7 linked regions of the Homo sapiens genome follow. The protein of the gene in region 2 purifies or fractionates together with the protein of the main gene of each other region. This does not show direct contact. Each region holds a gene or a part of one and is shown on either strand. Other genes may lie near its edges.

Region 1 (4,380 bases), on a different chromosome or scaffold from region 2:
CTTAAATGTCAAGAGTTCCCTGGCATGGCCTTTTACGTCCTATGGGAGCAGGTGCTTGAGACATTTCAAACTAAGATTATAGTCCTTGTCAGGAGTTGGGGAGGCATCTGGAAATCTGTGTTGGAATACAGAATCTCTGGGATAGGTGCAAGCCATCAGACTATCTCATCTCATTTTTGCAGTATCTCCTCCTCTGGCACTTTGTGCTTTGGTCACTAAATGACCTTTTTTTTTAGTATGATGTTTACATCAGAGCAGGGCATCATAAACCTTTTTGGTAACAAGGAAATTTATTAGTGAATGATGAATGGCCGTAACGTTACCCAGCAGTGGCAGAGCATGTTAGAATTGAGTTAGTATGTTTCTTTGTGGTATCCCTTTAGTTGCCGAAGACCGTCCTCTAACACATTTCAACCAAAACAAAAATATACGTGTACCAGACACAGCGCCACCAGCCTGATGGATAAGAGCATTTTGTGGTGCTCCAGATTTCCATTTAGAGCAGTAGTGGCCTTTAAACAAGTAAGTCTAAGCTCAGATATTATTTCAGAATTTTTAGAAATTCTGCAAGACTGCCAATTTTTTCCTTCTGGAGATGAATCTCTGTTATATGAAAATTAGAATAAACATGGGAATGAAGCCATAATTAAATTGTGGCAAAAAGAAGTGGATTGAAAATAGGCCAATGAAAGATTGGTTCCTAGATGAGACATTTAATTGTTTTACATCTGTTCAAGTATTCTTGGAATGTGGTCTTCTTTGGTAACTTTTTGTAACTTTTATTATACAAGTAAGAAACATGAATCATGGAAAACGAGGAAAGATAGTTTAACCAAAGAACAGTAGTCACCTGTAATCTTGCCTTACAGAGATTGATTAATTCGACCGTGTATCTGCGACTGCATAATTCAGCCGTGTATCTACGACTGCATACATTTCTAGGCATATGTGTATGCATGTATTAGGCTTCTCCTTTTTTAACAAATCTCAAAATAAAAAGTCTTACAACCACAGTTACAAAGAAATTGAACAAAATCAGTCACACTACTGTTAACATCGTAGTGTTTTTAAAACTTTTTTAAAGAAATGTAAATGTTAGGATTGTAAATAGAAAAATACACTTGGTAAGAAATACTTAAGCCCCTAGAGTAAATAGTCAGAGGAGATGAACAACACTTTACAGAAGAAGAAATCAATAAGCAAACCTAGAGAAAAGACGGTTCCTCTCATTAGTAAATAGAAATCTAGTTAAATGAGACTCTGTTTATGCCCACTTCTTAGAAGGTTGCTTAAACTTTGTATTATGAAGCACAGACTTCTATAAAGTTATTCGTACTCATCAAGGGCTATAAAATTTGTGTTACCTATTGCCTCTACATATCTGGAAATTTATCCTAAGGAGATTATCCAAAACAGAAAACATCATATCCAGTCCAGGCACGGTGGTTGTAATTAATCCCAGCACTTTGGAAAGCTCAGGTGGGAGGATCGCTTGAGCCCACGAGTTCAAGGTTGCAGTGAGCTGTGATTGTACCACTGCATTCCAGTCTGGGTGCCAGGCTAAGACCCTGTCTTTTTTGTTTGTTTGTTTGTTTGAGACGGATTTTCATTCTTGTTGCCCAGGCTGGAGTGCAATGGTGTGATCTCGGCTCACCACAATCTCTGCCTCCTGGGTTCAAGTGATTCTCCTGTCTCAGCCTCCAGAGTAACTGGGATTACAGGCATGTGCCATCACGCCTGGCTAATTTTGTATTTTAATAGAGACAGGGTTTCTCCCTGTTGGTCAGGCTGGTCTTGAACGCCCGTGCTCAGGTGATCCACCCACCTTTGGCCTCCCAAAGTGCTGGGATTACAGGCCACTGTGCCTGGCCGAGACCCTGTCTCTTTTTTCTTTTCTTTTTTTTTTTTCTTTTTTTTTTTTTTTGAGGCAGAGTCTTCCTCTGTCGCCAGGCTGGAGTGCAGTGGTGCTATCTCGGCTCACTGCAACCTCTGCCTCCCAGGTTCAAGCGATTCACCTGCCTCAGCCTCCTGAGTAGCTGGGACTACAGGCGCGCACAACCACGCCCAGCTAATTTTTGTATTTTTAGTAGAGACGGGGGTTTCATCATACTGCTTAGGATGGTCTCGATCTCTTAACCTCGTGATCCGCCTGCCTCGGCCTCCCAAAGTGCTGGGATTACAGGCATGAGTCACCATGCCCGGCCGACCCTGTCTCGTTAAAAAAGAAAGAAAACATCACAGCCTAACTTATAATTATGAAAACTTTTTTTTTTAATACGGAGTTTTATTCTGTCACCCAGGGTGGAGTGCAATGGTGTGACTTAGCTCACTGCAGCTTGGATCTTCTAGGCTTAAGTAATCTCCCACCCCATCCTTCTGAGGAGTGAGACTACAGGTGTACACCACCACACCTTGCTAATTTTTTTTTTTAATTATTATTTGTAGAGAGGGAGGTCTCACTATGTTGTGCCGGCTGGTCTCAATCTGCCTTAGGTGATCCTTCTGCCTCAGCCTTCCAAAGTGTTGGATTACAGGTGAGAGCCACCAGGACTGCCTAATTGTAAACACTTAAAAGCGAAATGGGCCGGGCGCGGTGGCTCATGCCTGTAATCCCAGCACATTGGGAGGGTGAGGTGGGCATATCATGAGGTCAGGAGTTTGAGACTAGCCTGGCCAATATGGTGAAACCCCATCTCTAGAAAATATACAAAAATTAGCTAGGCATGGTGGCACGCACCTGTAGTCCCAGCTACTCAGGAGGCTGAGGCAGGAGAATCGCTTGACCTCAGGAAGCAGAGGTTGCAGTGAGCTGAGATTGCACCACTGACTCCAGCCTGGGCAACACAGTGAGACTACGTCTCAGAAAAAAAAAAAAAAAAAAAGCTAAATGTCCTTCAGTTAGTAGTTAAATTATGGCAGATCATACAAGAATTAAGTTAGTTGGTTGGGCGCAGTGGCACACGCCTGTAATCCCAGCACTTTGGGAGGCCGAGGCAGGTGGATCACCTGAGGTTGGGAGTTCGAGACCAGCCTGGCCAACATGGTGAAACCCCGTCTCTACTAAAAATACAAAAATTACCCAGGCATGGTGGCAGGTGCCTGTAATCCCAGCTACTTGGGAGGCTGAGGCAGGAGAATCACTTGAACCCAGGAGGCACAGGTTACACTGAGCTGAGATCATGCCATTGCAGTCCAGCGTGGGTGATGAGAGAAACTCCGTCTCAAGAAAGAATTAAGTTGGTGTTGATGAGGCCATGTGGCAATGTGGGAAAATGTATGATGAGGAAAAAACACAGGATGGAAATTATATGTATGCTGTGATGATATGTAAAACATACCTATGAAGGGCCCGGCACGGTGGCTCACGCCTGTAACCCCAGCACTTTGGGAGGCCGAGGCGGGTGGATCACGGGGTCAGGAGTTTGAGACCAGCTTGGCCAACATGGTGAAATCCCGTCTCTAATTAGCCAGACATGGTGACACGCACCTGTAATCACAGCTACTCAGGAGGCTGAGGCAGGAGAATCTCTTGAACCCAGGAAGCAGAGGTTGCAGTGAGTCGAGACCGTGCCATTGCATTCCAGCCTGGGCAACAAGAGCGAAAGTCCATCTAAAAAAAAAAAACCTATGAACCTATGAAGAAAAGTCCAGAAAGAGAAACTCTAAAATGATTGTTGTAAATGTGATTTGCTCTGCATGGATGAGTAGTAAGGATCATCTTCCTATTATCTACACTTTTTTAAAAAGTTTTAAAGAATTCCAGTTGGTGTTATGATTATGTGAATAAATCAAACCCAATAACTGGACAGCCATCAGTGGTTTGGGCCACTGTGATAAACTTCCAGTATCCAGTGTATGGGGATATATTCCAGTATCCCCATGCCCGTTTTAGGCATATTGATTCCATATTCATCAATAAGCACAAAGCCTGAGCTTATCCATGAAAATAGCAGGGAAAAGAGCTATAAGTTAAGATTTCTTTTTGTTTGTTTGTTTGTTTTGTTTTGTTTGAGACGGAGTCTCGCTTTGTTCCCCGGGCTGGAGTGCAATGGTGTGATCGCTGCTCACTGCAAGCTCCACCTCCCGGGTTCACGCCATTTTCCTGCCTCAGCCTCTGGAGTAGCTGGGGCTACAGGCGCCCGCCACCACTCCCGGCTAATTTTTTTGTATTTTTAGTAGAGACGGGGTTTCACCATGTTAGCCAGGATGGTCTCGATCTCCTGACCTCGTGATCCTTCCGCCTCAGCCTCCCAAAGTGCTGGGATTACAGGCGTGAGCCACTGCGCCCGGCCATTAAGATTTCTTAGTTGTGAAACACCATGAATCCCACCATCATGTGACTTGCCTTGAGAATCTCCCAGAGTCTTGACTATAAACCAT
Region 2 (4,885 bases):
ATTTCCTCCAGATGTTCCACAACTTTCCCTGAGGGCAAATGAAGGGAAGAATTTCCCATACAGGGTTTCCGACAGGCCTGTCACTTAAAGGAGCTGTCCTGTTAGGGAAGTAACAGTCAAGCTGGGTCCAATGAACCTGTGTTTGAGTATTGATTCAGTGAACACTGGATAAATCAGTTTCTCAGTTGGGACTTCTCAGTCCCTATCTGTAAAATGGGAACATCAGTACCTACCTCCTGGGTAATTGTTAAGAATTAATGAAGCAAATAGAAACACATGTAAGGATTATCACAGCCACAGTCAACTCATTCAGAAACCAAATCACCCATTTTCAGTTGTCCCCTCTTTCACTCTAGGTGATTGTGAACCCCCACTATGAAGTGGCAGAGTCAGATTTCTCCAACAATATGCTGCAGTGCCGCTGCAAGTATGATGGGCACCGGGTCTGGCTGCACAACTGCCACACAGGTAACTCCGAGCCACTGTGGAATCAGCCATCTATAGGCTCAGGGAGCTGGAACACTGTAAATGTACCCTCTGCTCCCACACTCCAGCGTGTGACTTGTATGTGTGTGGTGTGCAAAAGGCTATGGATGGAACAGAGATGCATTTCCTTTGACATCTTACAAGGCAGACTTCTAGAACTGGTCAGACCATCGGCTTCACCCAATAACTACATCTTCTACATCCCTGTTTGCACTTAAGGCTGTTTGATTGTAAACTCAGTTTCCAATCTGTTCTAGAATCTTTCCTGTCACCTCAAGCCATGTCAGGATTTTCAAGTCCATTATTTTTCCTTTCTCTTTCATATAGAAGTTAGGGTTAGGGTCCTCACAGGCAAAAGTAGTCCTCTTGCTCTGTGTTGCTGTCTCCAGCTGTGATCACTGCTTGCAAGAAGGGGACCATGGAAAACAGAGCCACTTACAGGATTGGTAGCATCAGTCAAAGGAAGCATCATGATCCAGTGGGGGCAGAGAAGAGGGGCTGTTCTGTCAGTAAAGACTCCCTCTATCTTCAAGGGTTAAAAATGCCCATATTTGCTATGGGATATGCATTCACTCATACTTGCATATGTGCGGTGGGATGGGGCAGAGTTGTTCATTTAGTCAACAAACATTTACTAAGGCTCACTATTGTGTTGAACGCTGTGCCCCAGAAACTGGGAATGTAAGTGTCAGATAGGGTATGCACACATGCAAATAGCCCCAATACTACTAATGTGTGGACTGAATGCTGAGCAAGCACAGACAGAAAGCAACCTGTTGGGGGCTAGCACAAGCTTCACAGAAGTAGTATTTGATCTGAGGTTTGAAGGAGGAGCCAAAGTCAAACATGGGAGGAGTAGAGAAAGAGCACAGGACTGGGCTTTGGAAGGCGTCACCCGAATCCAGTCCCACCACTTTCTAGCTGGAGGACAGTGAGGAAATCACGACCTGAGTTTTCTGTTTTGTAAAATGGGGCTGTATACTTCAAACTTACTAAGTACTAGAGCTTTTTGCAGGGAGGGTTGTGATAGTTCTAAGATAATGGATTTTATCCCGTGGGCTTCTGGGAACTATTGACAAATTTCAGTCAAGGAGGCAAAAGATCATTTAGGTTTTCAAAAAATAACTGTGGCAACAGATGGACGAAAATGAGAAGAGGAAGAACAGTCTAAGGTTTCGAATTTGTGTGGCTGAGTAGATTGTGCTGCCACTTAAATGAAACAGGGATATTGAGAGGAACCAGGAACTGGAATCCAAGGCTACGCACACGGAGACAGCAGATCCTCCATAATGCTAGAATCAGGCTGCAAGGGTTCCCAGGCAGTGACAAGGGCAAGAAAAATAATGCAGTCCTGCAGGTCCTCTTGCCAGTGTTTAGGATCCAACAGGGCTAAACAGAAGTGTGCGGAAAACAGAAGGCACACTCGGGTGAGAGTCTGAGTTTATTTAATTAAAGGACTATTTATAAGAAAACAAGGAGTGTTGAGACATCAAGCATAAAGAAAGTAGAAAACCGTTATCTGCTTTAGGCTTGAAGAGGGGCAAGGGCTGCTTTGCAGCCAGGTGCAAGCCAGAGTTGTGAAGGAGGGTGAACCTAGCTGGAACAGGAGTCACAGACCATCACTGCCAGAACCACAGGGCCAAAGTAGGGGAAGGAATATCCGGCCTCTCTCCTTCCACCCTCTGACCTTCTGCTGTTGCTTTCCATTGACCCAACTCAAACAAACAAAAAAAGAGGACAAAGGAGCCAGAGTGATGTAATCGCTAGGCATCAGCTTCCTAGGGCACAGAGGGAAAAAAGGGCAGAGAATGAACCTGGGGAGGGGGGCAAAGGAGAATAACTAGCACAACTCTTTCCAATCAATAGCCTGTTCTTCCTGATGTTCCTGAAACCACACACCTGTCCCAGGCCTATTTCTATAAAATGATTGGTGTCTGTGCCCATGCCATGACTTGATATAAAGGATGAGCTGGGCAGAGTGGATCTATGTAAGTTGTCAGGGAAGGGATGAGACTGGAAAGGTTGGCTACTTACCTGTTTTCCTTTGGCCCACAGGGAATTCATACCCAGCCAATGCAGAACTCTCCCTGGAGCAGGAACAGCGTCTCAGGAACAACCTCATCTGAAGCTGTCACTGCACACTCCTAGCTGCTGCCGATACACCAGATACCTCAGCTTATTGGAGCCATGCCCTTCACAGAGTCCCAACTCAGAGGAAAAGGGCCAGTGCCAAGGGGCACCAAGAACCTGCTCAGGAAGCCTTTTGATGGCAAGATCACCAATCCAGATGGTATTGCTCCCTCAGGATGGCTCTGGGCCTGCCCCTAAGGGCCTGTGGCCTATGGAATATGTCCTCCAGGCTTTGCTCAGCTGAGCTCCTCTTCTGTAAGGAAACCCAGTCATCCCTGAATCTTGCCACAGAGATCCGGGATTCAGGAGCTCTCAGTTTCTTAGGGATGGACTATGGCCCAGTCCCCCATCTAAGTGGTGCTTTGCAAATGTCTTGGAGGAGTATAGGACAGAGGACCAAAATACACAGCAGGTAGTGTTAGCTCTCTGCTAGGAGCTCAAAGCAACACAACTTGTATCAAAATCACAACTGGCAGAGAAGCTGGTGGATCCAATCCTTTCTTCATCTGTTGTTATTTAGAACTCACCTCTCACACTCTGTTCTTTAGTGTCCTTACCTTTATCTTACCACACACATGGGTGTTTCTATTATCCTTGGAAGCACAGACCTCGGGCATCCCCTTATTGCCTGATGGGCCAACACCAACAGTTACGGAGTGCTTGAGAAGGGGCAAGTTTCACAGAAATGGCCAGATAGGGCCTTCCTACAGAGCAGCAAGAGTAGGCCAAGCAGAAAGACTGCTGAGGTAACACGGACCCCAGCCCCTGTCAGGGCCTCTGCCAAGGAAATAATATGGACCATTTACCTGGCAGGCAGTCTGCTCTCTCTCAGGATCACCACGCATCTCAGGATTGGTCTAAACTTCAAGTCTCAACCAAGTGTCTGAAGTGAACTTTGCATTGAATAAATTTTTGCCATGGAAAGAACATCAAACAAGCCACTCATCTCTACAGAGATAAGAAAACAAGTTTGGCAGAGCAAGAGACAGAAGACCGTGGAGAAATCAGAAGGGGGAACAGTCAGTTTAGTTAAGGATGGAACCTGGGAAAGGCCACCATTCCTGCTTGATGGGGCTCTGATTTGCTCTTGCTCAAGTGGAATAAAACCCCATGGTCTTCTTGACATGATTCTTGATCTTTTCTCCACTGAGACACACTTAAGTGATGATCCTTACAGGACTGACACCCTAATGCCAATAAAAGTTGCTCATTATGGACTGCTACAAAGACCAGACCAGCTGTGATTATGTACACACCCCAGAACCACAGACCTACCCTTTTGCCTCCCATGGAGCCAGGGCCTGGGATACACAGGGCACACATGCTTCTCATGACTGCCCATCTACATTTCTCCAATCAGACATAAGTCTGCTTCCCAGTCAGCCTCCCCAGGCTTAGAGCTGAAACACGGGTTAGAAAGGTTAAGGGGTAAAGGATAGGGGCAAGAAGGTAAAGTCTGAGGATTGCAAACTTTTATAATCAAGGCTGCGAAGCCAAAATAAATGGTAGCAGATGGAGCAGATTTACAACAGCACTACCCCCACCACATCACAAGAGCCACCACATCACAAGAGCTACCCCCTCCTTAGGGAGTAAAAAGGGACATGTTCCGGGGAACCCTCTGTGAATACAAAGAAGTGCTTTCTTCCTTATCCCCGACCTTCCCTCTCCTCAACTCCCTCATCTCCTTCATTAGGCAGAGGGAGCATTATATTTTGGCATGGCAGTTTAGGTAAACAAGGGAAGGACTGATTTCCTGTTGGATCCAGCAAACATCCCCCAAACAGTAACAACATTATGCTCACACATGCAGCTAATGGTCTGTGAAAGAATGTGCAGCTAGCAGGGGAGCATGTGGTGACTGATGACTAGATTCAAGCAGGGAGGTTACCCACAGCTGCTTGCTGGATCCAGTTTCTAAGAGGGACCAAAAAAACAGGCCAGGCAGCCAGCCACCGGCTCTGGTCTCAGCCTTGCTGCCCACATTACACGTTTGATAGGTGCAGCCAGTTCTAATTCTTGGAAAAGGCCATACAAGGGTTGTGCTGTTACAACTCTGAGCTGAAAGGGAAGGACATGGGAAGACTGGTGGCTGGCATGACTTATAACTAGATGAGGAATGTTAACAGAATACCAACCACCAAATTCCAGGTAGAACCAAAAATGTCAAAAGACTTTCATCTCAGCATACTTTAGCCTCAGAGAAACTAAGGTGCTAAGAATGTCAGCTTAGTCTTCAGAAGCCTAACTTACCTTTATACTACAAAGA
Region 3 (4,380 bases), on a different chromosome or scaffold from region 2:
ACACAGATAAAGTATTATTTTCTCTCTCAGCTATCAGTAGATGTGCCAAAAAACTTAATCTCATACAACCAGGCAGATATTTATGAGATCTACCATTATGAATAAGACTCAAATAGGCCGGTTTCCAAATTTTGTAGTGGCTACAGAGAATAAAATGGATCTAGAGCTCTAACACAGTTCCACAGGGTCCCTAGTAATGGATGCTACACATTATTAGCATGTGTTATAATCAAGATGTTGATAAAAAGATCTAAGTATTAAACTCAACCAAATGCTTTCTCTCTTCCTCTGCAAAATAAATACAGAAAAGGTGGTGTCTCTAAAGATTATCAACCCCTCCTCAAAAGATTCTGGTTACACAAATATTTACACATTACCCGAGTAACTGCAAATCCAGTATTTCTTGATAAAGCTCACACTTTTCAGTCTGATTTTTGTATCCTGATTTCTTTAGTCATCTTTAAACGTTTAAAAATGTTTTCGAGACAGAACTAAAATTTAAGCGCAAAACAAAGGAATTCAGTCTGCCTTTAGTATTCCAACTAAAGACTTCCTGTTAACAGCAGGATTCCTTTCTTTGGAACATACAGTAAGTGCGTGACTGGTATGCGGCCAAGAACATTAAAGGTCAAATTTTCTAATCTGAAAGTTCTACAGCTAAACGTAGAACTTTCTAGGCTCTAAAACTTTCTGAGATTATACAACTTGTTTTTGTGCTTCTACTAAATACAATAAGCTGAATTTAACCCTTGACACAAGGTGTTTCCTGAAAATCTAATAACTAATTGACAGGAATTACTATTGCCATTAAGTCATTACAAAACAAATTTTCCAACCTTTTTATGCTTATGACAATCAAAATTCAATGTTTCTGAAAATAGATCTATCGCACAAACCTATCCTATCCTCCTACAAACTTACTTTCTCCTTTCTATTCATTCAAATTCCTTGAACCTTATTCAGCATAAATCCTAAAAATATGTTTTAAGTCTTCTCAAGGTGAATTCAAGAAACTTTCAGCTACTGTCTCATATTCAGATTTTTCCCTTGTGGAAGAGGCAGTTATTAGGCTTTTCTGTTTGGCATGTAATTGGTTATTAATCTTTCCCTGCAACTTTAGAGATTCCTTCAAAAAAAGTACTACTTTTTTCTACAAGGTAAAACATTAAATCTATATTGCCCTGATAAAAATTAATCTTATCAAATGAAGTCTCTCAAGCTCTCAAGCAGTGTATCAACTGCTGTAAAGAATTTTTTTTTTTTTTTTTTTTTGGTTGGGAGAGATACCTTATTACCTGAGATTCTTCAACTACCTGCAACCTTCTTTAAACCTAACGCAATCTGATATAAAAGAGCCTGGGATGAGACTTCGAAGGCAGAAGTCTACTGTCTCATTAAAACAAGGTCTTGGCTATTCCATGAAATCAAATCTTATTTCAGTGCATGTGTGTTCCAATAAAACTACTGTATTGCAGGAGGCAAGTCTATCTGGCCTATGGGTGTAGCTTGCTGACTCCTGCTGAAGCCTCCCTCATAAAATTAAAAACACCCTCAAGATTAAAATTACGGTAGGGGCCCGAATTTTGATAAAATATTTTCCTTCTCTTTTTCCACCTCCATGTATGACTGCTTGCAAAGTCATTTCAACAAATGGCAGTCACTAATAATTGTCTTCCTGTGGCAGCCCCTGGGCAGGCTGCCCATAAGATTAACAAACCTGTTTCTTTTAAAGAACAATAATCCAGACTGGGTGCTGCGGCACATGCCTGTAATCCCAGCACTTTGGGAGGCCAAGGCAGGCAGATTGCTTGAGCTTGGGAGTTTGACCAGCCTGGGCAACACTGAAATTCAGTCTCTACTAAAAATACAAAAAATTAGCCAGGTGTGGTGGTGCATGCCTGTAGTCCCAGCTACTCAGGAGGCTGAGGTGGGAGGATTGCTTGAGCCCGAGGTCGAGGCTGCAGTGAGCTGTGATCATGCTACTGCACTACAGCCCGGGCAACAGAGCAAGATCCTGTCTCAAAAAAGAAAATAGAAGAGAAGAACAAGAAAACAATGATCCTAGATCACACAGACCCCCTTGATAGTTTCCAGAATTTGGACTGGCCAAACAGGCCAGGCCACTTTGATCACTGGTGATCTCACCTCCTGCAAACTCTTCTGCTAAGCTATAGGTTTAAACAGTAACCTGCCATTTTTTCCCAGCTTTCTTTCCATAGTAACTGGCAGTCACAAACACTACTGTAAAACCTAAGACTGGTCTTCGAGATATTTTTCAGACTTTGCTTACAAGTGGACCAACTGACACCAAATGGACCAGTGTTCCATGAACTCAACCAAGGAACTGACTTGGTCTTGTGACTCCCCAATTTCCCAGCAACTGATTCAGCACATGAAGACAGCATTGATAACCCTATGATCTCATACCAGTCCAATCACCAGCACCCATCCCCTAGCCCCCTGCCTGCCAAATCATCTTTAAATATCTTAGCTTCTCCAGTCTTGGCGGTGATGACTCTGAGAAACATTTCCCATCCTCCTTACTCAGCTGCCTTGCAATAATTAAACTCTTTCTTCTTTACAGTATCTGCTGTCTCAGTGTTCTGCTCTATTCGGATAGCAGACAAGAGCCCAGTCAGGTGGTAACATTGTTTTATAGCATTTTTTGGATACATAATTATTTGCACATGTTTATGGGGTACATGTGATATTGTGATACATGCAAAGAGTATGAAATAATCAAGTCAGGGTATTTAGGGTATCCATCACCGTGAGTATTTATCATTTCTATGTGTTGGGAACATTTCAAGTCCTCTCTTTTAGCTATTTCAAAATGTTAACTGTAGTTACCCTACTCTGCTATCAAACCTTAGAACTTATTCCATCTAACTTTATGTTTGGACCCATTAACCTACCTCTCTTTACCTCCCCTCCCATCCTTCCCAACCTCTGCTATCATTCTATCTCCATGAAATCAATGTGTTTCGCTCCCACATGTGAGTAAGAACATGAGACACTTCTCTTTCTGTGCCTGATTTCCCTTAATATAATGACCTCCAGTTCCATTCAAGCTGCTGCAAATGACATGATAAACATGGGAGTGCAGGTATTTCTTTGATATACTGATTTCTTTTCCTTTAGATAGATACCCAGCAGTGGAACTGCCGGATCATATGGTAGTTCTGTTTTCGGTTTTCTGAGAAATTTCCAAACTGTTTTTCATAGTGCCTGTCCTAATTATTGTAACATTCCCACCAACAGTCTGTAACAGTTGCCTTTTCTTCACACTCTCACCAGTAGTATATTTTTTTGTCTTTTTAACAATAGCCATTCTGACTGGGGTAAGACACCTCACTGTGGTTTTCACTTACATTTCCTTGACGATTAGTGATGTTGCACATTTTTTCACATACCTTTTGGCCATTTGTATGTCTTCTTTTGAGAAACGTCTATTCATGTCCTTTGCCCACTTTTTAATGGGGTTGTTTTTCTTACTGTTGGCTTCCTTGCATATTCTGGATATTAGTCCCTTGCTGGATGAATCTTTTGCAAACACTTTCTCCTATTCAATATGTTGTCTCTTCATTCTGTTGTTTCCTTTACTGTGCAGACGCCTTTTGGTTTAATATAGTCCCATATGTCTATTTGTTTTTGTTGCCTGTGCTTTTGAGGTCTTAGCCATAAAATCTTTGTTAGATCGATGTCCTGAAGTGTTTCCCCTACATTTTCTTCTAGTACTTTTATAATTTCAGGTCTTAAGTCTTTAATCCATCTCAAGTTGAATTTGCATATGGTGAGACAAGGGTCAGATTTCATTCTTCTGCATGTGGATATCCAATTTTCCCAGCATCGTTTATTGAAGAAAGTGTCCTTTTCCCAATGCACGTTCTTGGTGCTTTTGTAAAAAAATCAGTTGGCTGTAAATATGTGGATTTATTTCTGCATTACCTATTTTTGTTCCATTGGTCTATGTGTCTTTCTATACCAATACCATATTATTGTGGTTACTATAGCCTTATTTGTGGTTACTATAACCTTGTATGTGGTTACTATAGCCTTATTTCGAAGACAGGTAGTGTGATGCTTCTAGCTTTGTTCGGTTTGCTCAGGATTACTTTGGGTATTTGGGCTCCTTGTTGGTTCTGTGGAAATTTTAGGATTGTTTTATTTCTGTGAAAAATGACTGGTATTTTAATAGGGATTGCATTCAATCTGTAGATTACTTTGAGCAACATGGTCATTTTAATGATGTTAATTCTTCTGACCCATGAGCATGGGATGTCTTTCCATTTGTTTTTGTGCTCTTCAATTTCTTTCATCAGTGTTTTGAAATCTTGTTATTTATTTATTTATTTATTTATTTTGAGACGGAGTCTCACT
Region 4 (4,380 bases), on a different chromosome or scaffold from region 2:
GTTTTTGCATCTACATTTGGGTATTTGTGGATCTGAACTGAAAATTAAAGACAGAACTTGAAGGCAGAAGCAAGTTGGGGAGGAGATAAAAAATTGCCCAATATCTCCATCTTACTAATGTACTCTCCATATCTTCCTTCCTCTCTGTGTGTGTGATGAAAATTACATTTCCTAAACAGACATAGTAAAGTTACCTAGATTGAACTTTTCTAAGCTTTTTATGTTTCTGATTGACACCTTCCCTGTCTTGGTGAGCTCCTCAATGTGGATAAAATAAAATGAGGGAGTGAAGACTGTAAACTAGGGTTTCTGAACCCTGTGCTATTGACTTTTTGGGGCAGAAAATTTGTTGTGGACCTTTCCTGTATGTTGTACCACGTGGAGGTTTATTGGTCTTCACCCGTTAGGTACCAATAGCCTCTAGTTGTGACAACCCAAAACGTTTCCAGAATTGCCTGAATCACTCCCAGTAGAGAACCACTGCTGTGACCACAGTGCTCCTATCACCTTTTATGTGAAAATGTTTTATGTAATTGGTATGTTAGAAATTTTCTTTTGTGAAACTCATACGCTATTTCTTAACAAATTAAGATTTAACATTTATCTGATTTTTATCAACACCAAAGTATTCTACTTTCTGATAAAAAAATCAAAGCTTTAAAATGTGACTGGTTCAGGAACAAAAATATTAAAAGTTTTATATGACTTACTATTCTTGCATGTATATAACAAGAAGGACAAATTTTCTTACTGAATTAAATTTACCTCCTTATCATTCCTTGATTTTGCAGTAAAACAAATTACTTTGGTACTCTGTTAATCAAACTCATGGTGAAGTGACTACATTTTTGAAGGACTTTCCAGATGTGTAATAGGGAAAATATTTTAAAGAGAGCGACAAGTATATGAAGTTGCTGTTCTCTATTTTTAGATTTTCATTATGTTTAGAGCTTAATTTTCCCTCTTACTATATAAGAGAAAGGTAGCAATTTGTAGTAAGATTATTTTTTGGTTGACTTTTGTTTTAAGTTTTACTAGGAGTTGGCATTTACTGATGTGCTACTTAATAGTCTAACAACAAAACTGATGTAGCTATGAGATAGTGTTGTATGACTTTTGGAAATTGGTCTTACAGTTTTCTTGCATGAGCAGATGTGCACTGAAAGCCTTCATACAGTCTTATTCTTAATAAGGCTTTGATCACTTCCATGGAGGTTAATTACTGAAGAACAAGGAGTTCCCAGCCTTAGCAACTTGGGGTCCACATAGTATAGATTCCAAGAATGGGGTTAATGTGAGACACCAGAGAGATTAGTTTTTTGTTTCTTGTCCTTTAACTTACGTTCCTCACTTTCTCATGATTTCTAAAACTACAAGAGAAATAAAAAAGAACTAGATTACCCACCCACATTATGTTTCAGTCCTTTTTTTTCTATATTCTAAGGAGAAAAGTAGTGGTAAACAGGAAGAAGTCAAGGAAAGGGAAATGGTTTTTCTCGCTATGGTAATATCTAGGTAGGAATGATTTGATTTGCATCATGTATCATAATAAAATTACAGTCTATGCTCTGTTTACAAAATACCTGAAAGTTATACAGAACATTCAAAAGTTAATGCAGTTAGGGATTCTGAGTGTCTAATTAACCTTTCTCCATTGCTTTTACTCACAGATTTTAATTGCTAAAAAGCACAGATTTAAACTTCTGATATTTTAATTTGTTATGGCTCTCAAAATCAGACTCTTATTCTTAGTTATATTATTGTATTTAATCATTTTAGTTTTAAAATAGTTACTGTTTTGTGTTTACTGATTGTTCCATTTACAATTCGTGTAAAAGAAGGTAAATAAAATTACATTTTATTTAAAAATTAAAACTCATAACACAATTCCTATTTAACCATACATATTTATAAAATATTTGCAAGTTACTGTAATAGTCATTCTTAATTTAAGATTGAAACATTCTATCACAAAAATTCATGTTCTGGGAAAATATCAGGCCTTTTTTTTTTTTAAATAGAAAAATAGGAGACTAGTGTGGATGTTTGCTTCCTAGTTTAGATTGTTACCAAGCACTAGGTTAATAAATATCTTGAACAGTTTCTGTAGATGAAAAGGTTGATTGATATTTGCTGATGCTGCTTTTATCATGCTCTCATTCTTGAAGGATAAAATTAGCCCTTCTGGCCTACTCTTTGAAAACAGAGTAGTATTTCACGTGGGTTAAATAGCTTTTGAGTGATAGCAGAGCCAGAAAGAAGGCTAGTTCTTCCCTGCAGTAGTAGCAAAGAGAATTAGTCTTAGTAATTATTAATAGTAATGTGAGCCATTTTTGAAAGCTACTCTGTAAGCTATACTCATTGCTTGTCTTCTTAGTGTGTTAGCTTTTATAATCGCAATTCTTATAATAGTCTAGTGCTATAGATGTTCATGGATTGTTTGATGCTCCATAACTCCTCATTTAGATAACTTTTTAGTAACAGCATCTTCCAGTGGCGACAAAATAGTTGTCTCAAGTTGCAAATGTAAACCTGTTCCACTTTTAGAGCTTGCTGAAGGGGTAAGTGATTTTTTTTTTTTTTAAACTTTTAAAAATCTTAGTTTTGCTTGACTGGCAATTGCTTATTGTGGTGCTTGCGACTAAATATAAAGGTTTTTAAAAGCATTATTTTTAACTTAAGCTCAAAATAATATAGTAACACTTAAAAATGAGATATGTGTACTTACTAAAGTATTTTTAGGTAAAATAGTTTTGAATATAGGGGAACAATTGAAGACTTGAATTTTGTTGACTAGGCACTTCATTTCTCCATTTTCCCTCAGTGGGAGAGGATCTCTGTTGCTGCTATTTTAGGACGATATCCCACATAGGTTACTAGGTTGACCTGAGCATATAAACTCTAATGACACAGCACTGCTTTACTGATCTTGGGCTCAGGACCATCAGGAACAGACTCACAGCTGATGGTAGCTCTCTGCTTCAGATTCTGTCCACCTGTACTGAGGGGCCTGTCTGAGCCTCCCCCATACTCTCCTTAAACAGGTTGGCTTTGTCAAAATGAGCTTAGGTCCCAGGGCGTTTAAATGAAGCTCTCACTACGTACTGTTGCCTTATCCTTTTTTTTTTTTCTTTTGAGATGGAGTCTCGCTCTGTTGCCCAGGCTGGAGTGCAATGGTGCAATCTTAGCTCACTGCAACCTCCGCCTCCCCAGTTCAAGCGATTCTCCTGCCTCAGCCTCTCAAGTGGCAGGGATTACAGGTGCCCACCACCACGCCTGGCTAATTTTTGTATTTTTAGTAGAGACGGGGTTTCACCATGTTGGCCAGGCTGGTCTTGAACTCCTGACCTCATGATCCGCCCGCCTCAGCCTCCCAAAGTGCTGGGATTACAGGCATGAGCCACCACACCCAGCCTATCCTTTTGTTTTATAAGTTAATCCCTCTGATTAAGGATAATACTGGCTTCTTCATTTCTAGTCACACACTCTTTGAAAGCTATTTCTTTTTTAAATAAGATAAGATTTAAATAAAAAGATATGGTAGTTGATAGCTTTTTTTTTTAATTTCAAAGTTTTTCTAGCAGATCTTAAATTATTATGAATTGTCATAATTTTACACACTGGGATAGGTAAAGTAGCCCAATTAGAAAGAAAACAGCAGGACAACTGAATAAAAGCTCAACTAATTTAAAGAGGACTCATGATTTTTATCAATCCTCTCCTAAAGGTATCCAGTGGGATTGACCTGAACTTCAGTTCTAACCCACAGATGTTGGAGACTGGGACAGAGGGAACATGTGCTAACAGTAGAAATGGAGTTTGAGGCACTCTGTTTAACCTGACTTAAGCAGAATCAAGGCATAGAATGTCTCTGGTCGATAAAGGCAGACTGAAGTCTTCAAGAGCAGGCAAAACATCTTAACCATCTTTGGATCTTTGTATCCTAAGATGTTCAAAAAACTTGTTAATGTCAACATCAAAACAATTTCAACTTCTACTCTACCACTATATATATGTACTACTGTTATGCATTATGCCTTAGGATCAGTGAATCAGTATTTGGGAGCTTTTTTTTTAAAGTATAAAAATAACAGATGGTATTTACAAGTGTGACATAATTCTAAGAGTTTTGTGAATATTCCAAATTAGTTGCTATGATTCTTAGCCCTCTTTCCCATAGTTAACAAATTGTATCATAATGCTGTTGGATAAAAGTAAGATTAGTTGAGTTCAAATTTTCAATCTATTTTAATTTAGTTATGAAAATATTTGGAAACATTGGTTTTTTAGCTTTTACTAGTAATGTTTACAGAAACATATTAATGTGCTAATAACCTTTTTGTAACTTCCAAGTCCTCTTACTCGTGTATTATTTGAGGC
Region 5 (3,500 bases), on a different chromosome or scaffold from region 2:
ACACACTTCACATCACGGGTCCTCTGTCCCACGCCGCAGGGCACCGAGCACTGAAACACAGCACACTGACGTCAGGGGAACCAGCAGCTTCAGCTCTGGGAGAGAATTGCCAGTATGGAGCCCGCAGCCTTTGTGATCAGCCCCATGAGACTGAGGCTCTGTCATGCATGTCACCAGCTGGGGCAGGGATCTGAGCCCTAGAAAACTCCACAACCCTTTTCTACAAGACCTTCTTAGATGCCTCGCCTACTGTAAACTAAAAATAAAATCCTAAGCCTCCCAGCTGACTGAATGGGCCTCCTCTTGGCCAAGGAGACCCCCAGAGAAACCTTAAAAATGGATTTCCTGGCCATGACAGGATGGAAGGTTGGACACACCCTGTCATACCACCTCCGTTTTGCAGTCTAGACACAACCGACCAGCACTGATGTTAAGGGAGAAATCATAAGACTGACAGAATGGACTCTCTGTGGCAATAAGATACCAAATTATAAACAGGACCCAACGCCATGGCAGGCAAGGGGTTAAGTCATGCACCTCTGCCCTTGAAGAATAAACTATGTTCTAAGTTGCCTGGGAAGAAGGTCTTAGGATTCATGGCTTACATCCTGTTTAGAGTAAAGAATATTATTGTCAGTTCCTCAAATCTTATTGTGAATTCTTCAAACTGTTGACATACTGATTAATACGTAACCTGTGGACATTGAAGAGGACACTGGTTTGTTTGGTTTGTTTCTGAGTCATAAAGTTTTGCTGATTTATTTCTGACTCATGAAGTTTTATTGACTGTCTTGCACTTAAAACATTTTAGCCTGTATGTCGTCATCTGTAGCCAGTGATTGCAACCTCTGTGCTGTACCCTCCAATGAAAAAGACAACTCCGATTCAAGGGGTCCCCGTCTCCTCTCCTAAACTTTCTTCTAAAAGCCTTTCAACTTGTAACAGACTTTGGAACATGTCCAACGTTGTTCGTGTGTCTTCTTGGGCTGATCCTTACATTGGCTTCCAATAAATCTTTTATCAAATTATTTCTGCCTTAACAGCCTTAATTTTGACTGACACTACTCTATTCTTCCAGGCCTCAGTCTTTTCAGCTATAAAATGGGTAGGGAAAATTGGAAGGAGTTGGCTCTACCAGCAGTTGCCAACCTTCACTTCACCATGACTCACAAAGCAGATGAGGCCAGTATCAGAGGGCTCCCCCTGGGCTCACTCATAAAGTTGGCTGTGGGTGGCACACACTACCCTGAACTCTATTGAACTATTGGTACATCCTGTGGTTTGCAAAAACAGCCGTCCAGACCCCCACGGGACGGGTTCCCTCCTGTGGAACTCAGGGTTACCCATCTCAGGTCTTGGTGGGGGAGGCTGGAAAGTGTGGTGGGAGCTGGAGAGGGAGCTGCAGAGCGGGCTGCCCTGCCTGCGTACCGAGGTCCAGTCGGTCCGGATCTGCCACTCGCTGCAGATCTTGAGTTGGCAGGTGCTGGTGGTCTCAGGTTTCTCCAGGTGCTGGCAGCGGTAGGGCTGCACCGTCAGGCTGCGGTTGGCGTACACCTGGCGGCACAGAACCTGGCGGTGCTGCATGCCCAGGCCACAGGTCTTGCTGCACTCAGACCACTCCCCGATGTCCCAGCTGGTTCAGGAATGAGAGAGCGAGAGTGAGAGACAACCTTCAGTCAACAGGAAGTCAGCGTGAGCCCGCAGCAGCGTACACAGAATCATCAGAATCACTATGGGTAGAGTTTCTTACTAGAGCATTGCTTGAAAGTCAGCCTAGGCTGGGCACAGTGGCGCACGCCTGTAATCCCAGCACTTTGGGAAGCTGAGGTGGGAGGATGGCTTGAGCCCAGGAGTTCGAGACCAGCCTGGGCAACATGGCAAAACCCCGTCTCTACAAAAAATACCAAAGTTAGCTGGGTGTGGTGGTGTGTGCCTGTAGTCCCAGCTACTCGGGAGGCTGAGGTCAGGGGATGGCTTGAGCCTGGGAGATTGAGGCTGCAGTGAGCCATGATTGTGCCACTGCACTCCAGCCTGGGCAATGGAGTAGGACCCTGTCTCAAAAAAAGAAAAGAAAAAGAAAAAGAAAAAGTCTGCCTAAGGGTCATCTGACTCTGTAAAGGCAGATAAATTTGCCTGACACTTGACATGCTATTTACCAGTGATTAGGGCCCAGATTCTATGAAAAGTTATAGAAAACTGAAAACGTACAAATGATTTTTATCTAATTAAAAAAAAAACCTCCAAAGGTTAGTTTTATTACACTGTAGATCATTAACTCATTTTTGCTACTAACTTAGGAATCTTATTCTAGCATTATTTTTCATTAACAATTCCCGTATCAGTTTTGCAAACCCTCCTCTGTCATCTGCTCTGTTATTAGTTAAATGAGACATCAGCCCATGCTCACCATATACTTGGATGAGAATTATATTTTTATTACTCTGCAAATTAGGTTTTGACCCTTTTAGGGCCCTTTCCCCTTGTTCTTCTTCAAGTGTCCCATTTATCATTCAATAACCAGTTCAAGGCCAGGCGCAGTGGCTCACGCCCGTAATCCCAGCACTTTGGGAGGCTGAGGTGGGCAGACCATTAGTGCTCAGGAGTTCAAGACCAGCCTGGCCAACATGGCAAAACCCTGTCCCTACAAAAAATACAAAAATTAGCCAGGCGTGGTAATGTGCACCTGTAGTCCCAGCTACTCGGGAGGCTGATGCAGGAGAATTGCTTGAATCCAGGAGGCGGAGTTTGCTGAGATCGTGCCACTGCAATCTGGCCTGGGCAACAGAGCTAGACTCTGCCATAAAAACAAAAACAAAACCAAAAAACCGAAACAGTTCAAGACCTCTCCCGAGACACTTTTCTTGGCCTCTCCAGGCTGATGTTTTTGTGACTTGCATTATCCTCTCTCTGTGAACAGCTCACCTACGACACCAACTACACTGGCTTCTCGTTTTTTGCTTCCTCCTTTGTTTTCCTTACCAGGCTCAAACCTAATTGCTCCAGCTTTGTCAAGGGTGGGCTTCCCAGAAGTGGGTTGACTTGCTAAAGGCTATCAGCTCCTGAGTTCATCCTGAAAGACAGGTGTGCCTGCTAAACAGACTGCATTTTATGCATGGTCCAAGTCTTGTATTTCTAACTCAGATTTAGACTGACTTATATCTGTTCCTAAGGTCCTGTGCATAAGTGACCTGAAGTGACCCGGTAATAGGCGACCTAAATGGAGGGGCCTTCTTACAAGGCTGGGCAAGGGAAGATGTTGCAGGGCTCCTCCTCGGGGGTCGGCTTCATGCTGGAGTCACAGTAACTCTCAGGAGCCTCTTCATGAGTGCTTCTGTGCACACAGCGGAAAATAGGGTACTGCGATCCTGCAACAACAGGAGAATGTCTGAAGGACAGTCCCACACACTGGAAAGCTGGGCTATGGGTGGAGATGCACAGAGATTCGGGTGCTGATGAAGAGAGGGCACAGAAACAGTGAGGACAATTCACACATGCATGCA
Region 6 (3,500 bases), on a different chromosome or scaffold from region 2:
TTATTAGAATTTTTTTCACTCTCTGACACAGAGTTCTATTTTAATTCTTTTTTTTTTTTTTTTGAGATGGAGTTTTGCTCCTGTTGCCCAGGCCGGAGTGCAATGGTGCAGTCTTGGCTCACTGTAACCTCTGCCTCCCAGGTTCAAGCGATTCTCCTGCCTCAGCCTCCCAAGTAGCTGGGATTATAGGCATGTGCCACCATGCCCAGCTAATTTTGTATTTATAGTAGAGACGGGGTTTCACCATGTAGACCAGGCTGGTCTCGAACTCCTGATCTCAAGTGATCCACCCGACTCGGCCTCCCAAAGTGCTGGGATTACAGGTGTGAGCCACTGCACCTGGCCCTATTTTAATTCCTAAACAGTAAAAGATGATCTGAAATAAAACTAGTTAGAATGAATATGGTATTTTTATTACATTATATTTTTACATATTTCTATTTTATTTATATATAAACAGTATGAATATGGTATTTTATATTTTGCTATATATTTTATTAATATATTTATATTTTTAAATGTTATATATATTGTTTGATTGTAATAAAAATTAAAGATTTAAGTTCTGCACTTTGTGTTGATTGCTGAAGACCTTCCAACTGACATCTTTTAAAAACTTATATATTTATAAGTAGATACTTATATAATTTATATACTTCAGCATGCCAGATCAGTAGTTTATAAGGAGTTCCCAGTTTTATTTTCTTTTTCTTTTCTTTTCTTTTTTTTTTTTTTTTTTTTTGAGACAGAGTCTCACACTGTTGCCCGGGCTGGTGTGCAGTGGTGCGATCTCAGCTCGCTGCAACTTCTGCCTCCCAGGTTCAAGTGATTCTCCTGCCTCAGCCTCCTGAGTAGCTAGTATTACAGGCACCTGCCACCACACCTGGCTAATTTTTTGTATTTTTAGTGGAGGCGGGGTTTCACTGTGTTGGCCAGGCTGGTCTCAAACTCCTGACCTCATGATCTGCTTGCCTCGGCCTCCCAAAGTGTTGGGATTACAGGCATGAGCCTCTGCGCCCGGCCTTATTTTATTTTTCTTACTTACCCGTGGAACAAAGAATCAGGAATAAATATTAGAGATGCTGATTTGGCCGGAAGCAGTGGCTCACACTTGTAATTTCAGCACTTTGGGAGGCCAAGGCAGGCAGATCACCTGAGGTTGGGAGTTCGAGACCAGCCTGACCAACATGAAGAAACCTCGTCTCTACTAAAAATACAAAATTAGCCGGGCGTGGTGGCACATGCCTGTAATCCCAGCTACTCGGGAGGCTGAGGCAGGAGAATTGTTTGAACCTGGGAGGCGGAGGTTGCGGTGAGCCAAGATTGCGCCATTGCACTCCAGCCTGGGCAAACAAGAGCGAAACTCTGTCTCAAAAACACAAACAAACAAAAATGCTGATTTGGAGGAAGAATTTGAAAACTTAACAATTTAACTTAGGATGTAATCATCAAGAGTTTTATAGCTGTTCTGTATTTAGTAAAGTGGCATTTCTGGCCAATATTAATACATTTTAATGTAAGTTAGCCAAAATTTATTAGCAATACAGTTTTTGAAAGTTTAACTTTTAAGAGTTGCAAGCTTTTTTCTAATCATGCTTATCTCTTCAATTAGGGTTGAAAGGAGGAGCAGGAGGTACTGATGGACAAGGAGGTACCTTCCGGTACACCTTTCATGGCGATCCTCATGCTACATTTGCTGCATTTTTCGGAGGGTCCAACCCCTTTGAAATTTTCTTTGGAAGACGAATGGGTGGTGGTAGAGATTCTGAAGAAATGGAAATAGATGGTGATCCTTTTAGTGCCTTTGGTTTCAGCATGAATGGATATCCAAGAGACAGGAATTCTGTGGGGCCATCCCGCCTCAAACAAGATCCTCCAGTTATTCATGAACTTAGAGTATCACTTGAAGAGATATATAGTGGTTGTACCAAACGGATGAAGATTTCTCGAAAAAGGCTAAACGCTGATGGAAGGAGTTACAGATCTGAGGACAAAATTCTTACCATTGAGATTAAAAAAGGGTGGAAAGAAGGCACCAAAATTACTTTTCCAAGAGAAGGAGATGAAACACCAAATAGTATTCCAGCAGACATTGTTTTTATCATTAAAGACAAAGATCATCCAAAATTTAAAAGGGATGGATCAAATATAATTTATACTGCTAAAATTAGTTTACGAGAGGTAAGTTGGTAGGACCTAAAATCCTAAGACCAAATAATTATGTAGTTGATCATAGGGAGTGTATCTAGATAATAGCTAACATTTATTTAATGCCTATTATACGTTAAAAATAATTACTATAAAAATCCTCTAAGATAGTACTAGTATTATACCTCTTTTATGGATGTGATTATATTTTCTAACTTTAGTTACTTATAATTAAAGTGTCAAGTGTTAACTGGATTATGTACTATGAGGCTGCTTTTACAAATGTGGTTTATGAGATCTGCATTGGTAATCTCAACACATTAGTCTTTGTATATAGGGTTTGTTCTAAATTTGTTAATATGGAGTAATAATTGCATACCAAAAAAGATTAGAAGAAAATAATTTATAATTCACTACAAATTTGTATACATTTATATTAATAAAAAATACATTTATAAGTGCATATAAATATATACATTTATAAATTATAATGCTACTATGTTAATACAATTATTATTTGAGTTCTTATTTGCACTATTTCTTTTTTTTTTTTGAGACAGAGTCTTGCTCTGTCACCCACAGCGCAATCTCGGCTCACTGCAACCTCTGCCTCCGGGTTCAAGTGATTCTCTTGCCTCGGCCTCCTAAGTAGCTGGGATTACAGGCGCCCCCCACCACACCTGGCTAATTTTTGTATTTTTAGTAGACACAGGGTTTTACCATGTTGGCCAGGCTGGTCTTGAATTCCTGACCTCAGGTGATCCACTTGCCTTGGCCTCCCAAAGTGCTAGGATTACAGGCATGAGCCACCACGCCTGGCCTATTTGTACTATTTCTCAAATTGGATTGTAACTTTGCAAATATGGTCATAGCAGTTCCCTGCTTCAAATTCTTAAATTGCTCTATATAACCTCTACCATAAAGTCCAAACTCTTTAGCTTAAAATAAGTCATTTTAAATCTGATGTCTACCCATAAAATGTATATGCACTTCCCCAAGTTTGCTCTATTATTATTATTATTATTTTTTTGAGATGGAGTCTCGCTCTGTCACCCATGCTGGAGTGCAGTGGCACAATCTCAGCTAGTACTGCAGCCTCCACCTCCCAGGTTCAAGTAATTCTCCTGCCTCAGGTTCCTGAGTAGCTGGGATTACAGGTGCCCGCCACCATGCCCAGCTGATTTTCATATTTTTAGTAGCGATAGGTTTTCACCATGTTGGCCAGGCTCGTCTTGAACTCTTGACCTCAAGTAATCCGCCCACCTCGGCCTCCCAAAGTGCTGGGACTATAGGCATGAGCCACCGCACCTGGCCCAGTTTGCTCTATTATTATCTTGTATACTTGAGCTGTA
Region 7 (4,380 bases), on a different chromosome or scaffold from region 2:
TGAAGGTTGTTGGAACTACAGTCATTTCAGGCTGTGTCACAATAGAAATTGTTAAGAGCTGTCCATTTGTAATGAAAACTCGAAAATTTTTCATTTTTAAGGCATCTCCTGTCTTGTACTCATTATGTCTCATCCATGGCCTGGAATGTCTTAGCGATTTTCACACTTCTATTTAGTGGCAAAATCATTCCTTCAAAGACAGCTTTTTCATGGGATCCCCTGTATAAAACAGACCAATCTGGATGCCTGATTTTTTAGAGTGGGTTTCAGATGGAAATGGGGGTTATTCAAGAATGAAAGGAATCTCCGCAGATCTCAGAATGGAAAACCACTCCAGTCTGAGTTTGTTTTGCATTTTCTGAGTTTTTATTGCTGGTGCTCAGGTGCTAGGTTCACCTGGTCGGCACATTTCTTCCTCATTTCATTTACTAGGGGCCATGCTAACTGTTGCTCCAGCCTTACTAGCAGTCTACCATCAACGGTAAAAGCATTCCCTTCTCAATCTTTGTGCAAAAGTTTCCTTCCAGGTTGTTGAGTTGACCCACGAAAGTCATGACGCTAATAGAATTGTCTTGACACAAAAACAACAGCATTGAAGAAATCAGAAATGGTGCAGGCTTTCGGGTGTGGGAATGCTTTTTTCTCTCTTGAATGAAGTTGCTGAAGAGTGGTCTTAAGTTATCCTGTTCTGTAACCAACAGGAGGACTCACGAATGGCAGTGGAAGATACATCTCTGCTGCTCCAGGCGCTGAAGCCAAGTACCGCAGTGCAAGCAGCGCCTCCAGCCTCTTCAGCCCGAGCAGCACTCTTTTCTCTTCCTCTCGTTTGCGATATGGAATGTCTGATGTCATGCCTTCTGGCAGGAGCAGGCTTTTGGAAGATTTTCGAAACAACCGGTACCCCAATTTACAACTGCGGGAGATTGCTGGACATATAATGGAATTTTCCCAAGACCAGCATGGGTCCAGGTGAGTACTTGGCTTTGGCACTTTAAGGTACCCGAAATTGTAATGCCTTAACTGTCTTGGCTCAGATGGGTATCTACTTAAATAAATTGCCATATAGTAATTTTTTAAAAGCGTGCCTCTTAGTTTGCATCACATTATTTCATAGGGATTTAAGAAACAAACATGAACACAAAGACATACATACACTTCGGCTGCTTTAAGCATTATGAAGAATCTTTTGCTCTCAAAGAGTTGCTATTCAAATACAAGTTTGATCTAGGGTGCTGAGGAGTAAGACAGCTCTACCACCTTTCTTTGTTGTTCCACTCTGTAGAAGTGACAGTCTATGTAGAGACGAGAGAAGAAACTATTATAGAAGACAGAATTTGGTTTGGTTTACCCCTTCCTGTTGGGCTGCTGCAGTGGGCTTCACAGAAAGCGAATCTGGTCCTGGGGATAGAGCATAATTATGGTGACAACACCCATCCTTCTTTCCCATTTCTGTTTCTGTTTCTTTCTCTGATACTGTGTCCAGTGAAACAGTTTCTACAGAAGCTACCTCCTCCTTAAGTTCTGCCAGCTTGCTACTGGGCCAAAATTTCTCATATTTGAATTCTATAGGCTAGATTCAGAGGCAACATGATTTTCCTGATAGTGGTCATTTGGACTAAAAAAAGGCAGACTGTTACTACTTCAGAAGATAATGAATACTGTTTTGTTTTTGTTTTTTTGTTTTGTTTTGTTTTGTTTTGTTTTTTTGAGACAGAGTCTTGCTCTGTCGCCCAGGCTGGAGTGCAGTGGCGCAATCTTGGCTCATTGCAAGCTCTGCCTCCCGGGTTCACGCCATTCTCCTGCTTCAGCCTCCCGAGTAGCTGATGAGTACTGTTTTATATGAAAATAAGTTAAAGAATATAGTAAGGACTGTAAGCTTTGAGTTCATTGATGTGAGGCTGGTTTCTAAAGGAAAAAAGTCAAGTAGGGTACATGTTGTGTTATGTCTCCCTCCACCCCTCCTCTCTTCCTGCACCCCTGCCCCTCCCGCCCCCCCCCCGCCCCCCCCGCTTTCATCTTCCCTCCCACCTTGCACATAAATAAGATTCAGTATGCATGCCCTACTGGAATGAAATGTGCCAACATTTATATGTAATTTTCAAAGCTCAATTAAGTTAGGACCTTCTTCCTCTATTTAAAAACTCTTCAAGGGAGTTCAAGTGATTCATTCAAATAAAGTTTGGTTTATTGTGTGCATGTGTGTGCACACATGCTCACTCACATGTTTCAGAACGGATGCAGTCTATAAACCGAGGTACACTGATGTATCTCCAGGTCTTCCTTCAGTGCTGTGATTGCCCTTTTTACTTTGTACTTCAGATTCATTCAGCTGAAACTGGAGCGTGCCACACCAGCTGAGCGCCAGCTTGTCTTCAATGAAATCCTCCAGGCTGCCTACCAACTCATGGTGGATGTGTTTGGTAATTACGTCATTCAGAAGTTCTTTGAAGTAAGCCTTTGTTCTTTCTATCCTTTGACTTAAGAGAATCTGCAGAGCATTTTGATTTTCATTAGCCTTTTTAAGCATAGCAGTCCCATTCCAGTCCTCAGAATGAAGGGTGTGTGGTCTTTTTGAAGAGGTTTTTAGTGTTTTTCCAATTCATTAGCAGCAGTCTATCTATTCTGTATGGTTTAAATATCCGAGCAGATAATGCCAATCTATTTTGGAAATGTGTTTCGAAAACTGGTGTCCCCATTTAGGACCCAGCACATTATTTCAGATTGTTATAATAGTTTCACAAAACGTGTCACTTAAGGAGGAAATAATCCTTGTAAAGTAGTTTTAGCAGGATCACAATAAAATATTGCCAAAAACAAATTTTTCTAAGGTTCTTAGAGAATTGTCTTTGGACACCGACTCCAGTATGTTTCATTATCAGCTAGGGTCACAAGAATTGTTAAATGCTGCTTCTTGGCTGATCGTTTGGCCTTGATTTCTTGTTTTACTTCTGTTAATTTGAATAATGTTCACTTGTTGTATCATTGTCTTTGGAAAGAATGAGATTGTTAGGTTGATGTCTTTTCCCTCTAGTGAGGTAAAATTTCAGAGAGGCAGGGACTTTTTTGCTTACCATTGTAGCCCTTATTATCTGGTATTGGCAACCCTAAGGTGTAGATGCAGAATGGCACAAAACTTCGAGATGAGGAGGAGTCTGGTATGGGGAGGAAAATGCTGGAATTCTGCACATTACCTACCACAAAACAAATTTGTAAATGTCTTAACATCTCATCCTGTTTGATTTGTATGAAGATGAAAAACTGACGTACTCAAGTTTTACCTTCCCAAGTTTTTTCATGAAGACTTATGTTTTTTCACCCTGAATTCTTCAGCTTTGGACTAAGAAACCAATCTAAACATGACTTTTGTATTTTTGATTTTAGAATGACTTTGCACTGCCGTTTTGTCACATATATAAAAATACTGAGCTTTCTAGTTCTGGAGGCTGATGCACCTTGGGGTGACAAAATGTACAATGGATTATAGCCATATGATTTGGACCAAGCTTGAGAACTTCTCTGGATCTTAGTTTCCCTTGGGAGAATGAGGAGGTTGGATGGGCTGAGAATTCATAAAGTCTCCTCCAATCTCACGATTATGTGATTGAAATGAAAATAATAAGCCAAGGATGGAAAATCATTCTAAGTAGAATTTTAACATTGTGTAGCCTCACTTCTTGATTCTACTGATTTTTCCCCTCCCAACTCTGTTACCTTGTGTAAATAGGAGAAAAAAAAATCAATTCTCTTAATGATGTAGAATACTATTTCAAAACAGTGTGTCCATGTGTGCTTTGGCAGTAAGAGTGTAGGATTCTTTTTTTTGACACACAGTCTTGCTCCATTGGGCAGGCTGGAGTGTAGTGGTGCTATCTCAGCTCACTGTAACCTCTGCCGCCTGGGTTCAAGCGATTCTCCTGCCTCAGCCTCCGGAGTAGCTGGAGTTAACAGGAGCGTGCCACCATGCCCAGCCAATTTTTGTGTTTTTAGTAGAGGCAGGATTTTGCCATGTTGGCGAGGCTGGTCTCAAACTCCTGACCTCAGGTGATCCACCCTCCTTGGCCTCCCAAAGTGCTGGGTTTACCGGTGTGAGCCACTGCACCTGGCCAGATTCATTTAATAGTATGAATTAATGACAGCTTTGAGGAATTATGTGTTTGCTTAGCAGATATTAATAGTGAAACTACCTATTGTTGGGTATCCGAGAAACTTCTTAACATTAAAAAGGGTTACTCATAATTAAGAGATCGAGAACTACTGGCTTGAAGAAGCAATGGCTCTTTAAATAAAAGGTTTAGTTAATCATGGGTATCAGGGCTAAAAGAGGTTATGCCAGTGGTTGATGCAGAATAATGAATGCTTTGCTTTCTCTGGTTTATTTCC

Evidence for each region.
Region 1: the proteins of LOXL4 (region 2) and CAD purify together in Homo sapiens (affinity purification with mass spectrometry; one large-scale study listed by BioGRID and IntAct). This does not show direct contact.
Region 3: the proteins of LOXL4 (region 2) and SAV1 purify together in Homo sapiens (affinity purification with mass spectrometry; one large-scale study listed by BioGRID and IntAct). This does not show direct contact.
Region 4: the proteins of LOXL4 (region 2) and NEDD1 purify together in Homo sapiens (affinity purification with mass spectrometry; one large-scale study listed by BioGRID and IntAct). This does not show direct contact.
Region 5: the proteins of LOXL4 (region 2) and THSD4 purify together in Homo sapiens (affinity purification with mass spectrometry; one large-scale study listed by BioGRID and IntAct). This does not show direct contact.
Region 6: the proteins of LOXL4 (region 2) and DNAJB4 purify together in Homo sapiens (affinity purification with mass spectrometry; one large-scale study listed by BioGRID and IntAct). This does not show direct contact.
Region 7: the proteins of LOXL4 (region 2) and PUM1 purify together in Homo sapiens (affinity purification with mass spectrometry; one large-scale study listed by BioGRID and IntAct). This does not show direct contact.

The regions. Positions count from the first base shown.
Region 1 is NC_000002.12:27,227,014-27,231,393, forward strand, and holds part of CAD (multifunctional protein CAD), read left to right. Parts: intron 1-4,380. UniProt on the Homo sapiens protein: Multifunctional protein that encodes the first 3 enzymatic activities of the de novo pyrimidine pathway: carbamoylphosphate synthetase (CPSase; EC 6.3.5.5), aspartate transcarbamylase (ATCase; EC 2.1.3.2) and dihydroorotase (DHOase; EC 3.5.2.3).
Region 2 is NC_000010.11:98,246,648-98,251,532, reverse strand, and holds the end of LOXL4 (lysyl oxidase homolog 4 precursor), read left to right. Parts: intron 1-356; coding exon 357-468; intron 469-2,541; coding exon 2,542-2,612; 3' UTR 2,613-3,843; downstream 3,844-4,885. UniProt on the Homo sapiens protein: Catalyzes the oxidative deamination of lysine and hydroxylysine residues in collagen and elastin, resulting in the formation of covalent cross-linkages, and the stabilization of collagen and elastin fibers.
Region 3 is NC_000014.9:50,657,823-50,662,202, forward strand, and holds part of SAV1 (protein salvador homolog 1), read right to left. Parts: intron 1-4,380. UniProt on the Homo sapiens protein: Regulator of STK3/MST2 and STK4/MST1 in the Hippo signaling pathway which plays a pivotal role in organ size control and tumor suppression by restricting proliferation and promoting apoptosis.
Region 4 is NC_000012.12:96,910,257-96,914,636, forward strand, and holds part of NEDD1 (protein NEDD1), read left to right. Parts: intron 1-2,466; coding exon 2,467-2,561; intron 2,562-4,380. UniProt on the Homo sapiens protein: Required for mitosis progression. Promotes the nucleation of microtubules from the spindle.
Region 5 is NC_000015.10:71,744,971-71,748,470, reverse strand, and holds part of THSD4 (thrombospondin type-1 domain-containing protein 4 isoform 1 precursor), read right to left. Parts: intron 3,366-3,500; coding exon 3,236-3,365; intron 1,634-3,235; coding exon 1,429-1,633; intron 51-1,428; coding exon 1-50. UniProt on the Homo sapiens protein: Promotes FBN1 matrix assembly.
Region 6 is NC_000001.11:78,011,439-78,014,938, forward strand, and holds part of DNAJB4 (dnaJ homolog subfamily B member 4), read left to right. Parts: intron 1-1,612; coding exon 1,613-2,181; intron 2,182-3,500. UniProt on the Homo sapiens protein: Probable chaperone. Stimulates ATP hydrolysis and the folding of unfolded proteins mediated by HSPA1A/B (in vitro).
Region 7 is NC_000001.11:30,950,303-30,954,682, reverse strand, and holds part of PUM1 (pumilio homolog 1), read left to right. Parts: intron 1-701; coding exon 702-969; intron 970-2,319; coding exon 2,320-2,449; intron 2,450-4,380. UniProt on the Homo sapiens protein: Sequence-specific RNA-binding protein that acts as a post-transcriptional repressor by binding the 3'-UTR of mRNA targets.